Linked DNA regions of Homo sapiens. The protein of the gene in region 1 interacts with the protein of each later gene in a pairwise test. Each region holds a gene or a part of one and is shown on either strand. Other genes may lie near its edges. The genes, in order: ALX1 and UROC1.

Evidence for each region.
Region 2: the proteins of ALX1 (region 1) and UROC1 interact in binary tests that used the Homo sapiens proteins (3 or more experiments, as listed by UniProt).

The regions. Positions count from the first base shown.
Region 1 is NC_000012.12:85,297,013-85,302,374, reverse strand, and holds the end of ALX1 (ALX homeobox protein 1), read right to left. Parts: intron 1,221-5,362; coding exon 900-1,220; 3' UTR 591-899; downstream 1-590. UniProt on the Homo sapiens protein: Sequence-specific DNA-binding transcription factor that binds palindromic sequences within promoters and may activate or repress the transcription of a subset of genes.
Region 2 is NC_000003.12:126,480,454-126,486,858, forward strand, and holds the end of UROC1 (urocanate hydratase), read right to left. Parts: intron 3,016-6,405; coding exon 2,916-3,015; intron 2,033-2,915; coding exon 1,892-2,032; 3' UTR 713-1,891; downstream 1-712.

The DNA.
Region 1 (5,362 bases):
CAACTCGCTGATGCTTTAACAGAAAATGTTACTTTCAGTGTAGTATTAATTAGTGGTTTATGTGCACAGTTTAATCAACACGATCTTAGTTTAAAAGCAACAGCAAGGTTTATAAATTTTTTCTTGTTTGTGATGATTAAGTAATTGAGTCTATGCTGGCTTCTTCACTGGAAAAATGACATTTATAAAGTCCGCTCCCATGACTATATTTTCAATCACACCAGAATACTTCAGTTATCACCTTTAGCCATGTGGCTTCAGGAAACCATGCCCAAATATCTCATGCGAATGTTGGTTATTTTAAAAGATCCCTTGTTTAACAGAGTGGAAATTCACTAAAACATCAAAGGGTAAAAACAAAAACAAAAATGAGGCTTGAAAATAAATTCTCAGCAACAGGGTTTTTGCCCACTGCTTTTTGGAGAGAGAGAGAGAGCAGTTAACTCCCCAGAACACCCTGATTCAATATTTACCTGACGACTTTGGCATCTTGACATTTTCCCCAGTGCATTTCCTTCTTTATCAGGTATTATTTTACATGAGATTTCTTGTTATACAGAAGTAACATAAATCAATCTATAACAGAAGAATTTGTTTAACACATTTATTCTTTAATAAGTTGCGTGATCATATTTCATTGACTTGTACAATAGAAAAAGAAAACCTTACTACTAAAACAGGGTTTGTGGAGACTGGCACATGGTAAACCTATTTAGTCTTTTCAGAGGTTCATTCTTAGATTTTAATGTTAAATAACAACTATTCATTTAAGCTGGTCTCACTGAATATCTTGACCTTTAGCAATTCCACACACAGCAGCTTATTGTGGTATCCTTTAAATATGAGAAATAAGAATGTTTAACTTTGCTATTAAAAGAAAAATAAAAGAGTACTGTATGTTACATGGCCCATGAAATATTGGCGGTGTGCTCCTTGGCTTTCATTCGAAGAACTGCGATACTGGAAGACCTCCTTTCAAACTCTGGCTTTGTTTCAAATGCATGTCCATTGGTTGCCCCAGTAAGAAGAGAGTCAGTGAAAAAATTGTTGAGGGGCACGTGGCTGAACTGGTTCTGGTGGTTTGAAAACCCCGTGTAACTGGAATCTGTCCGAGGCGAGTGAGAATAAGGTGTCATACAGGAGGAAGTGTCACGTGGTAACATGCATGAAGTAACCACAGAACCACCACTTGCATTTCCTGCCCACAAATTGTTCTGAATCTGGAATATATAAAACAACAAATATTACATTTACATGTTCTCACTTTTGTTCTCTTACTTTTGTTAAGTTGTATTTACTAAATTTGGTTAACTATTCATTGTTTGCTCCTATTGGGTGGTCTGTAATTACATACAACAATGACTAAAAAATAATTACTTGAGAGATCCTTCTAGTTTGTTATACTGAAATAGAGCAACAAATCTCACATTCTTGGCCACATAACGTACTCTCAAACATGTCTATCTCCTATAAAAAAGTATTATTTTCATAGTCATGATTTTAAAAATGAATCTGGAAGATTGAGTCATGACCAATTCATACGATTAGAAAAGTAGTTTAAAATCTGGTTTTAAGTTTAAAGATAGTTTTTGTCTTTCTAAACAAAATGACACAAATGCATTTTTAAAAAAAATTCTAACTGGGACTCCTGGTGTGGCAGTTTTCGTTGGAAACCATTGCTGACAATAGACTGTTCTGCAAAGATATTTTTGATCAAACTTATTCTGGAACATGTTTGCCCTCCTATTGCTTTTTCGTATCCTATAGTCTTGAAGAAACAGCTCTGAGAATCTGGGAAATTACAAAATATGTAAATATACATATTTTAAAAATTTATTCTGTGATTTATGTATGATATAATGAATTTGAAACAGACATGTGACATGTAAAACAAAGTTAGAATTTTAAAACATGGGCCTTTACCAAATAATGGAATCATAGCTGAGAAAGATGTGCAACTATTTAGCAAAAACATCAGATGAGTATAATGCAGTTACTCTTGTGTTATATAGTACTCCTATAGAGTAGAAACTGCTTTATCATTCACACCCGAGATATTCACACTTCGTATTATTAAATCTCCACAGGAAACAATTCAATGCAATATTAACAAGTACAAATTTATCTAAAGTTACTAGCATGTAAAAGAAACATGATATAGACCTTATGTAACATGAATTTTAAGTAGGACATATCTCAATCTTAATATACAAGCTATTTAAACAAACAAAAGCAGGAACCCCATACGTTACTGGGAAGCTCAGAGAAAATCATGACAAATGGCAGGAGCTGGGGAAGGTAAAAAAAGAAAATGTTGCATGGGATAGTAATACTATGATGCAGCCCTTTGAAGATGAAATAAAACTGAATGCTTTTAGCAACATTATTATAATACATTTGGACTAGAACATAGCAGCAATACACATGTTAATCACATCAGGTTTCCTTATCTTTTAAAATCATGATGTAAGAGTAGAATCATCAATGAGTAGGACACATATGTCTTCCTATATTTGTTTCTACATAAAGATTCCAGGCACCTACATATAAGGTCTGGTGTAGTCTTACAATACCCATGCTTGAGTTGTACTTTCTATGGCAACTAATTTTCAAATAAGAGCAAAAAATATGTTAATAAATCTTCTAGATCACACTGGTAAAAAGGTACTCTGTCACTCAAGAAAGGACTGATTAACCAGGTTCAAAACGTAAGAGAAAAACCTTAATAAGTAATTTCAACCTTTAGGTGGGGTTTCAGTGATTGGCAAGGTGCTTACATATCTGGGTTGTCTTAAAAAATAATTCTTTATATAAATATATGTATAAGCTGCTTTAAAGTTGTTAAATATATACATATGTAGAAAGAGACAAAGAGAGAAATCTACATATCCATATCTAAACATATATATTTTATATATATATATGATTTGCATATTTTGTTAATCCTTAAATTGTCTCAGGCTATGTTCTAATTCTGGCTCATTCTACTATATGTGTTCCACTTTAGGCAAAACATAATGACTGGTATCAGTGATTGCTGAGTTATGTATATCAAACCAACAAGAGGGCTGCTAATGTCATTACTCTGTCAAACTACCTCTTCTAACTTCATCTGCGTGATTTTCCTCTGACATTCAATCACACACATTGTGCTACTCGGCAAAAACCATAGTCACATGTCTGATAAAAGAGCTTTCAGAAATGAAAGTGAACTTTGCTTGCTTACTTAAAAAAAAAAAAAGGAAGACAACATAATGAAAGAGAAGGATTATTTATATTTTGTTTGTTAAAGAATTGCTTGATTTATACAGTTTCTTGAATTTTTTATTAAAATCATTCATTCATATTCCAAATGCACAGAAATATGTTCACCAACTAGATGAAAAAGCTAAAATCAGAAAGGTAAAGGCAAGGGAGGTAACCTATAGATATAAATTAAGAAAATATTGCCTCCCTAACATAATTAACATAAATCTACCTATAAATTGAAAAATATTCTGTAGAGTACATAAAAAAGCAAATTTTATTTTGATCAAAACTTCTTATCTGGACATGATCAAGCACGTTATATGCATTACTTTTGATGAAATAATTTCTAACATATAGACATGTTTTTCTGGGCAGAACAGACTGGTAAAGTAAATATGATAACAATATTTTAGTTGGGCTTGTGAAGATACCCTAAATATTTTGAAGATTGTCATTTATTCCCATAGGTAGAGATATCCTCACACATTTTTACTGATCTATCTTGTTTTCAAAATATCTATTTCTTCCCCCTCCCCAGCACCACTGCTGATCTTTCCTTTTTTAAATTTCCAGCAAATCTTTATTTGACTTTAGAAACATTGTTGGTTTCCACATTGTAAATTTATTTAGATGCAACTCATAAAAGATAATATCCTCGGTATATTGTGATTTTACTTCTCTGAAGCCTGCCCTCTGGGTGTTTAAACATTTGATGATGATGCTCAAGACCATGTTCATTATAGCTAATGGTTACCAATTAATTACCATGCGTGAGGCATTATGTTAAATATATTATGAACACTTTTAATTGTTTCAGTACACTAAACAGCGTGTTCTTTTGCTATCCCCCTTTTGAGGATGGTAACACTATAGAACAGAGCTGAAGAAGATCACCCAAGATTGCATAGTTCCAATGGTGGAGGTCAAATCTCAACCTAGGAAACCTTAGAAATGCTGTAATAATGACTAGTTTTATGAGTTGAAATTATTTATTTACTCATTATCCCTACTTTGTGTAGGTTCATAGTCTCTACTCTCTGAAAGAAAAACCCACAATTATTTCTCACAACTGTTTTGTCATCCTCAGGTCTAATGTGGTACAAGGTAAGTCCTTAATACAAAGTTATTAAGTGCTTGAAAAATATGGACTGATCCATCTTGCAGATATAATCAAAATTTTATGGATGATTTATGTTAATATATCAAAATTTTTGTTTCATAATATGAACTCCCAAATCACCATACTCAATAATCTTAACAGTGATCATGAAAATTACATTCCTAGACCTTGCTAACTGCATTTACCTGGGAAGTTCTTTATTTTTATTATTAAACACTGATTCTCCACAACAGATACATATCCTTGGAGACTCTGATTCATTTAGTATGGCTCAGGGGCTCTGTATTAAAATAATAGTAATAAAATACACACATGGAATTCTGAAAATCAATTGAAATTAGGAAACACTACTGGAGTCCAACTTCCTTCCAAATGAAAAATTCTTTGTACACCAATTTTGTTTACCTCTTGTGATAAGAAGCTCACCTGTTTAAAAAAAAATTCCATTTCTTTTCTATAAAAGTAAGCTGTTATATTCCTCTACCTCTACCTATGGCTTCCATTTATGTGCCCTATAATGACGTAGAATAAGATCATCTTTCTTACATGTAAAAATCTTAAAATGTAATCGGGCATGATGATACAACCCCCAAATCCTTTTTCTCCAGGTAAACATCTCCAGTGCTTTTAACCATTCCTCATATGACTTGGTTTCTAGACACTGTATCATTCAGATCATGTTATTCTGGATATGTCTGAGCTTATCAATACCGTTTACCCTTACCAATACATAGCATTTACACCAGAATATCATACACTGCATATCATCTGATTGCTGTAGGAAAAAGCTGGCAGATAAAATCTTTGTTCTAGGCCATCTAGATCTGATTAAACAACAACATTATTTGAGCTAAGGGTTGACTATAGTGCTATCAAGCTGGACTCACACTGTTCCTCCATCCCTACACCAATATATTCTCATATAGGCAGTAATTTTTAAACTATGCCCTGGAAAGTATAAATCCATGTGCATATTATCTAAAAGTGCCTATT
Region 2 (6,405 bases), on another chromosome or scaffold:
GTATGGAGCCCAGAGGGGGTCTGGGGTCTGTGTGCAGCTGGAAGCCACCAGAGCCCTCCCTGTCCTTCAAGAGGGAAGGTGCTGGATGGGGAAAGGGTGATGCCAGGGCCCTGTGGCCCGCTCTTAAGATGTGTGCACAGATCCATGCAGCAGGGTGCTTTCATGGAGATGTGGGGACAGACGATTCGTCCCTACACACTCTGTCCTGTCTCTCTCACTATCTCTGTCTTTCTCTCTTTCTCTGTCTCTTACTCTCTCTATCTCTCTCTTTCTCTGTCTCTTCCTCTCTGTATCTCTTTCTTTCTCTGTCTCTTCCTCTCTCTCTGTCTCTCTCTGTGACTCTCTGTCTGTCTCTGCCCCTCTCTGTAACACTCTCCCCTCTCTGTCTCTGTCCTTCTGTCTCTGCCCCTCTCTGTAACACTCTCCCCTCTCTGTCTCTGTCTTTCTGTCTCTGCCCCTCTCTGTAACACTCTCCCCTCTCTGTCTCTGCCATGGAAGGATGCAGTGAGAAGTTGGCCTCACCAGGAATTACGCCAGCTGGCACCTGGTCTTGGGCTTCCAGCCTGCAAATGTGTTTCATTTCTGTTGTTTGGGCCCCAGTGCCAGACATTATGTGGCAGCCGCCCTAGCTGACCAACCTGGTTGCTGTGTTTCCAGGCCCCACATCTTGGTTCTGGCAGGACGAAGGGGCGAAGGCAAAAAGCAACCCCGCTGGATCTGTCCATTTTATTAGAAAAACGACGGCTCTCAAGAAGCCCTGCCCCACAGACCCCACCCTCATCTCGTGGGCCAGGACTAGGCCAACAGTCCCTCCTAACAGCAAGGAAGGCTGGAGAATCAGGTGGTTTTATTTACCCTATATTGCTGCCCACACAAAACTAGGCTTTTGTTCACAAGGGAAAGGGGAGAATGGCTGCTGGGGAGGAGATGCGGAGTGCAGGGAGGGTGGGGACCAAGAACCCGGCTTGGTCCTGGAGAGGGCAGTGGCCTGCCCCTCTCCAATCCACCGACATGTGGGGTGTCTGGTTTTCTGTGGCCCTCAGAGGCCCACCCACAGACTCTTTCTCATTTCTCTGTTTAGGATGAGTTATCTGTTGGTCTGTTGCACGCCCAGCTAAGAGAATGAGATTCATGAGCCCTGGCCCTGACAGAGGCCACTTCCCCCATCCCGGTGACCTCTCACGAGGCTCTGGACCCAGTCATTACCGGGCTATGGGATTGGGGAAGGGGTGCCAGACTCCAGCCTCAGGGGCCAGCAAAGGGTCCCCTTTGCTGTACCCCTCAGGCTGTGCTGGCCTAGGGGGGTGCCCCTGCTCTCTCATTTCTTCCCCAGTAAGTGATCATTTATCCTTAGGGCAGACCCGGCCTGCCCGTCCCACCAGCCCACAGTGCAGCACACAGCTCTGTTGACCCTTTATTTCCTGGTCTATCCTCCTTCCCGAACTCCTCCAGGCCAGCAGCCCAGGGTGCCAGGGTCCAGAAGTTGCTTGCACAGACAGCAGATGGGCAGCAGACAGACAGAGTTGCATGGAGGCTGGCAGGTGGCCAGGAAGCAGAGGGTGTGATCATCCCAGCCGGAGAGAGCTTGACCAGTGTTCACCGCAGGGCCCCCGGGCAGGCTTGGGACTTGGCCCTAAATGGACTTTGACAGCCTTCAGGGCTCCCATGCAAGTGGCATGGTTGTGGACAGAGAGCTGCATGTCTCTGGGCCTCAGGGGGCTGTCTGTAAAATGAGGCTGTGGTGGCACCCTGCACAGGGCACCATAAGGGCCACGTGAGGATGTGCGAGAAGTGCAGGTAGTGCGGGTGTGCAGGAAGGGTGTGTGCCATGGCTGGGCAGGTGAGGATCGCCAGGGAGGAAGGGAGGCAGGGGCCGCGACTCCTGGCTCCCTCAGAGCTGCAGGGCCTGCTGGAGCACCCGCTCGTCCTCCACCTTGTGAGGCAGTGTCACCACCAAGGTGCTGTTCTCCTGCATGGTCTGGCAGATGATCTCATAGGCCTTCTGGTTCCCTGACCAGCAGCGCCGGGCCACCTAGGGCAAGGAGGGGGATAGCAGTCCATGTCAACATAACCGGGCTCCCCACGTGAGTCTTGGCTCCCACACTTGGGGCCTCTCTGCTTCGGGACCTCTGAGGCTGTCCGTGGGGACAGCTGCCCTTTTGTGTCTGCCCCATTTCCACCCCCAGCTTAGGCTCCCTGTCTCTGGCCCTCCTCTGGGATCTGAAACTGGCGGTCATCACACTCAGTCCTGCTCCCCCAGCTCCAAGAATGGCCTTGCCTCCTGAGTCCTCCGCAGCACCTCCCTCCCTTCTAGAATCCACCTCAGCCTGAGCTCTACCTTCACAATGTCCCTGCAGTCCTCTTTCTTCCCTCCACCTGGTCTCCCCTGGATGATGCCACGCCTCCTCCCCCATTCCCCTCTGCCATTCTTGCCACCCCCGCCTCCGCCTTCCACACAGTCACCACACCTGCCCCCAACCCACTTTTCCATGCCACAGCCGGGGCATCTCCTAGAACAAAACCTCTTGCTCTGGGATGAAGACCTCCATCCCCAGCTCCGCCAGAAGCCCTGCAGCTCCCGGTGAGATGGGGTGAGTCTCCTGCCAGCACCCTCTCTGTCCTCATGCTCACGCTCCGGGCCCAGCCCAGGGGCTTTCAGTCACCCAAGCTGTCTGAACTCCCGCCTTTGCTCCAAGCCTCCCCTCATTCTCTGGGTCCCACCTGTCTCCCCATCATCACCTGACCTGACCTCCATTTGAGCTGATTCCCCCTTCCTGGCTGCTGTGCTGTGGTCATGAGAGGAATCCGGCCCCCATCCCCACACCCAGGAGATGCTGTATGACAGCAAACGTGGATGGGGATCACCCAGCTGAAGGCCCTGCCTTCAGGAGGTGGCAAGGACTGGGCTGACTTACACCATTGGAGACATCCCAGCTGAGCATCAGCCTGGCTCTCCCCTCGGCCTCCGGGGTACCGTCCAGCACGAGGCCGAATCCCCCGTTGATCACCTCACCCCTGCAGGAGGCAGAGGAGTTTCCAGTTCATTCCTGGGGCCCAACACTGCACAGAGCAGGCAGAAGCCCATGTTTTGGAAGCATTGGCTTGAGACGGCGTCAGGGTTGGGGCCGCCACACCGCCAGCCTCTGCAACCTGGTGGATGCAGGAGTCGTGCAGGCAAGCACAGCTGGGAGCAGCGTGGTTACCTGCCACCTCTCTGCCCACTTGTGCCCCCTGTGCTGGGCCTGTCGGCCTCGTGCCCACTTCCACCACCCATTGGAGGTCATCCCTTGATGGAAACCTCCTGGGTACCCCCAGTGGGCTATAGCTGCCCCCTCCCTGCATTCTCAGAGTGCTGCCCTATAAAGCACACTCCCCTTGGTGTGTCTTGTATTACTCAATTCAGTCATCACTCTTTCTGGTTTTATCTTTAAAAAAAATATTTTTTTAGAGATGGTATCTCACTATGCTGCCCAGGATGACCATGAAATCCTGGCCTGAAGCAATCCTCTTGCTTCGACCTCCCAAAATGCTGGGATTATAGGCATGGGCCACTGTGCCCCCACCTGATTTTATCCTTATGATCTTTATCTTCCTTATCTCTTCTTTCTGCTTGCCTCAAGTGTATGGGGGGTCCTTCTGATTATTTGATCTGAAGGCTAAGTTCCTTTATTTTCAATATTTCTGGTTTTCTAATTAATGCATTTCTCTCCTTCTAACAGTTTTTGATATGTTCTTGGTTTCATTTGTTTCCTAGTAGATGAGTTGAACTTCATTAACTGTGTTGAAGCTCTGCTGCTGCTTCCATGCATGTGCACTGGAGCTGTTCCCCATCAGCCTGGGATGACCTTCCCCATCCTCAGCCATTCACCTACGAGCTGCTGCCCTTGAAGCATCCAGCCTTGGCTCCTGCTCAGTCTTCTCAGCTTTCAGTTACACAAGAAGCACCCTTAATTTTGTAAACGCCTGTCGTTGTGTTGTTGCAAATGTGTCCCTCCTGCCTCTTATTCCTCACTTGCAGTATATCTGTTCCTTTTTCTTCCAGCATGCAAAATGTGCATCTAGTTTCCCTTGTCTCAAATCCTTCAGGCCCATCCAGCTTTCCCTGCTTCTCTGCCCAGCCTGAATCCTACTGACCACAACCTCAGCCAGTTCTCACCAGGAAGCCAGTGAGAGGTGCCCTGTGCCCCTTGCAGCCACCTACACTCCCCATTCCTGGTCCCAGAAGCTGCACCCCTCCTGCAAGTGAGCCAGCTGTGCTGCCTACCACCCTGCACTTGCATCCCTGCACCTGGGCAGTCCATGGCCTGCAGTGGGTTGCCCTCACACCTCCCACCAGCCTCCAGGTGGGAGGTGCTCCAAGTCGATCTAAGGTCATTACCATTCATCTGTCAGAGGAGCAACAGCCATGCCCAGGCCTGAGCACTCCCAGTGTCCTGCAGCTAGAGAGGCCTCTTGGAGATTAGAACTACAGATTTTGTTTTAGAAGCCTGCATCCCAGAGGGTCAGAGACCAAGGCCGCTCAGCTTCAGGTGACCTTGGCAAACTGACCACAGAGGAACTCTGAACTTGCAGATCCCAGGAAAATGGGAACGCTAACACATTGCTATTAATGGTGAATTTGAGGTAACTCACAAATGGTGTTGGAACAACTAACTATACCTTTGAGAAAAACATGAAAGTAGAAAAACATAAATGCCAGATGTATTAAAGTGCATGATTCGATGAGTTAACATACATGAATAGTGTAGAAGGCCTTGCACATGTTAACACTCTACAAGCGTTCGCTATCATCAGCTCATTTCCTCTTCACCCCTAGCCTACAAGGCAGTTGTTATTATTATGCTTATTTTCTCATTGAGAAACAAAGGCACAGCAAGGCTACCCTGTGCAGGCAGATGGCCTGAGAACTGCTGTCAATCATGGCACTCCAGGGCTGTCCATCGGGGCATCATCCCCTGCACATGGGCAGAAGGCGTGTGGGTGGGTGGGGGAGGGCTGTGTGCACAGACAGGGCCCTGGAAGCCCTGGCTACTCAGAGAGGTCCTCGGGGCAGAGGATCAGCGTCACCAGGAGCTTGCTAGAAATGCTGAATCTCCATTCCACCCCACACCTGCTTTTTTTTCTTTGTTCCCCATTTATTTATTTATTTTTTTTTGGTAGAGAGGGTGTCTCACTATGTTTCCCAGGCTTTACTCAAACCTCCTGGGCTCAAGCAATCCTCCTGCCTTAGCCTTCTGAGTAGATGGGACTATAGGCGTGCACCACTAGGCCTGACTCAGACCTGGTGGTGCACGCCTATACAATAATCTGCATTTTAATGATATCCCCAGAGGATTTCTGTGCACATTCAAGTTTCAGATGCACTGTAAGACATTGTTTAGTGTGAAAAAGTGGCAGTATCCAGATATATAATAGATGGTGGATAGAACACAGCCATTTACCCCTGCCCCTCCTGCATCTCACCAACAAAACTGCAGAGGAATTATTTAACCCACAAGGATGAGGAGAAAGGGACAGGAGAATGGGTGATGGGATTCTGAAAGCTGGAGGCAGGCATCAGAAAGCTCCAGCGCAGTGTGGCCATGGGAGGGACCGGCAGAATCCATCGGCGCCCCAGGACCCAGGGAACCTCAGGAGCTGGTGGTCAGCACCAAGGGGCTCCGAAGGAGGGCAAGAGCAGAGGTAAAGTTGGAAACACCGGCTGGAAGCCTGCTCACCTGAGGTGGGCTCCCAGATGCCCACCCACCTGCTGCCTAGAGGCTGCCCGAGTGGGCCCTCGGTGGCCACTGGAACTGACCCTCTCACATGTGAGGCCGCAGCACCAACAGGGAGGCCTCACCCCTCTGACTGGGTCCTCCCAATAGGGAAAGGAGATCAGAAAAGTCTTTTCTGAGGTCCAACCAACCCAAGAACAAGAGCCTGGCTCTTGTCTTGATCTCTTGCACTCTGTGGCCCAGCCAGATGGCTCTGTCCTGCAGCCTGCGGTCCAAACGTCCACCTGAGCATGCAGGGCTGCAGCCAGCCAAGTAGTGCCCTGTTTAAACGTGAGCGCTGGGCAGATGGCACAAAGACAGACGGCAAATGGGCAATCAGGAAGAGGGGCTGCAGGAGACAGTGGCACAGAGGAGGCTAGAAACAACACACAGCTGTCACTGGTTGTCCTGGAGTGGAGCCAACAGACAAGTGGAAACATGGGAAGTTCGGTCCAGGAATGTGAGGGTGAGCGCACAGCCTGGAAACAGGGATCAATGCGCAGGAAAGAGAAACTGCTGCAGAGTTGCGGGGGGTGGGGCGTCCCCTTGGAGTAGCCACGGTGGGGATGGAATTGGGAGTGGCATCCCTTTCGAGTAGCCACGGTGGAGACAGAATTGGGAGTGGCGTCCCTTTGGAGTAGCCATGGTTGAG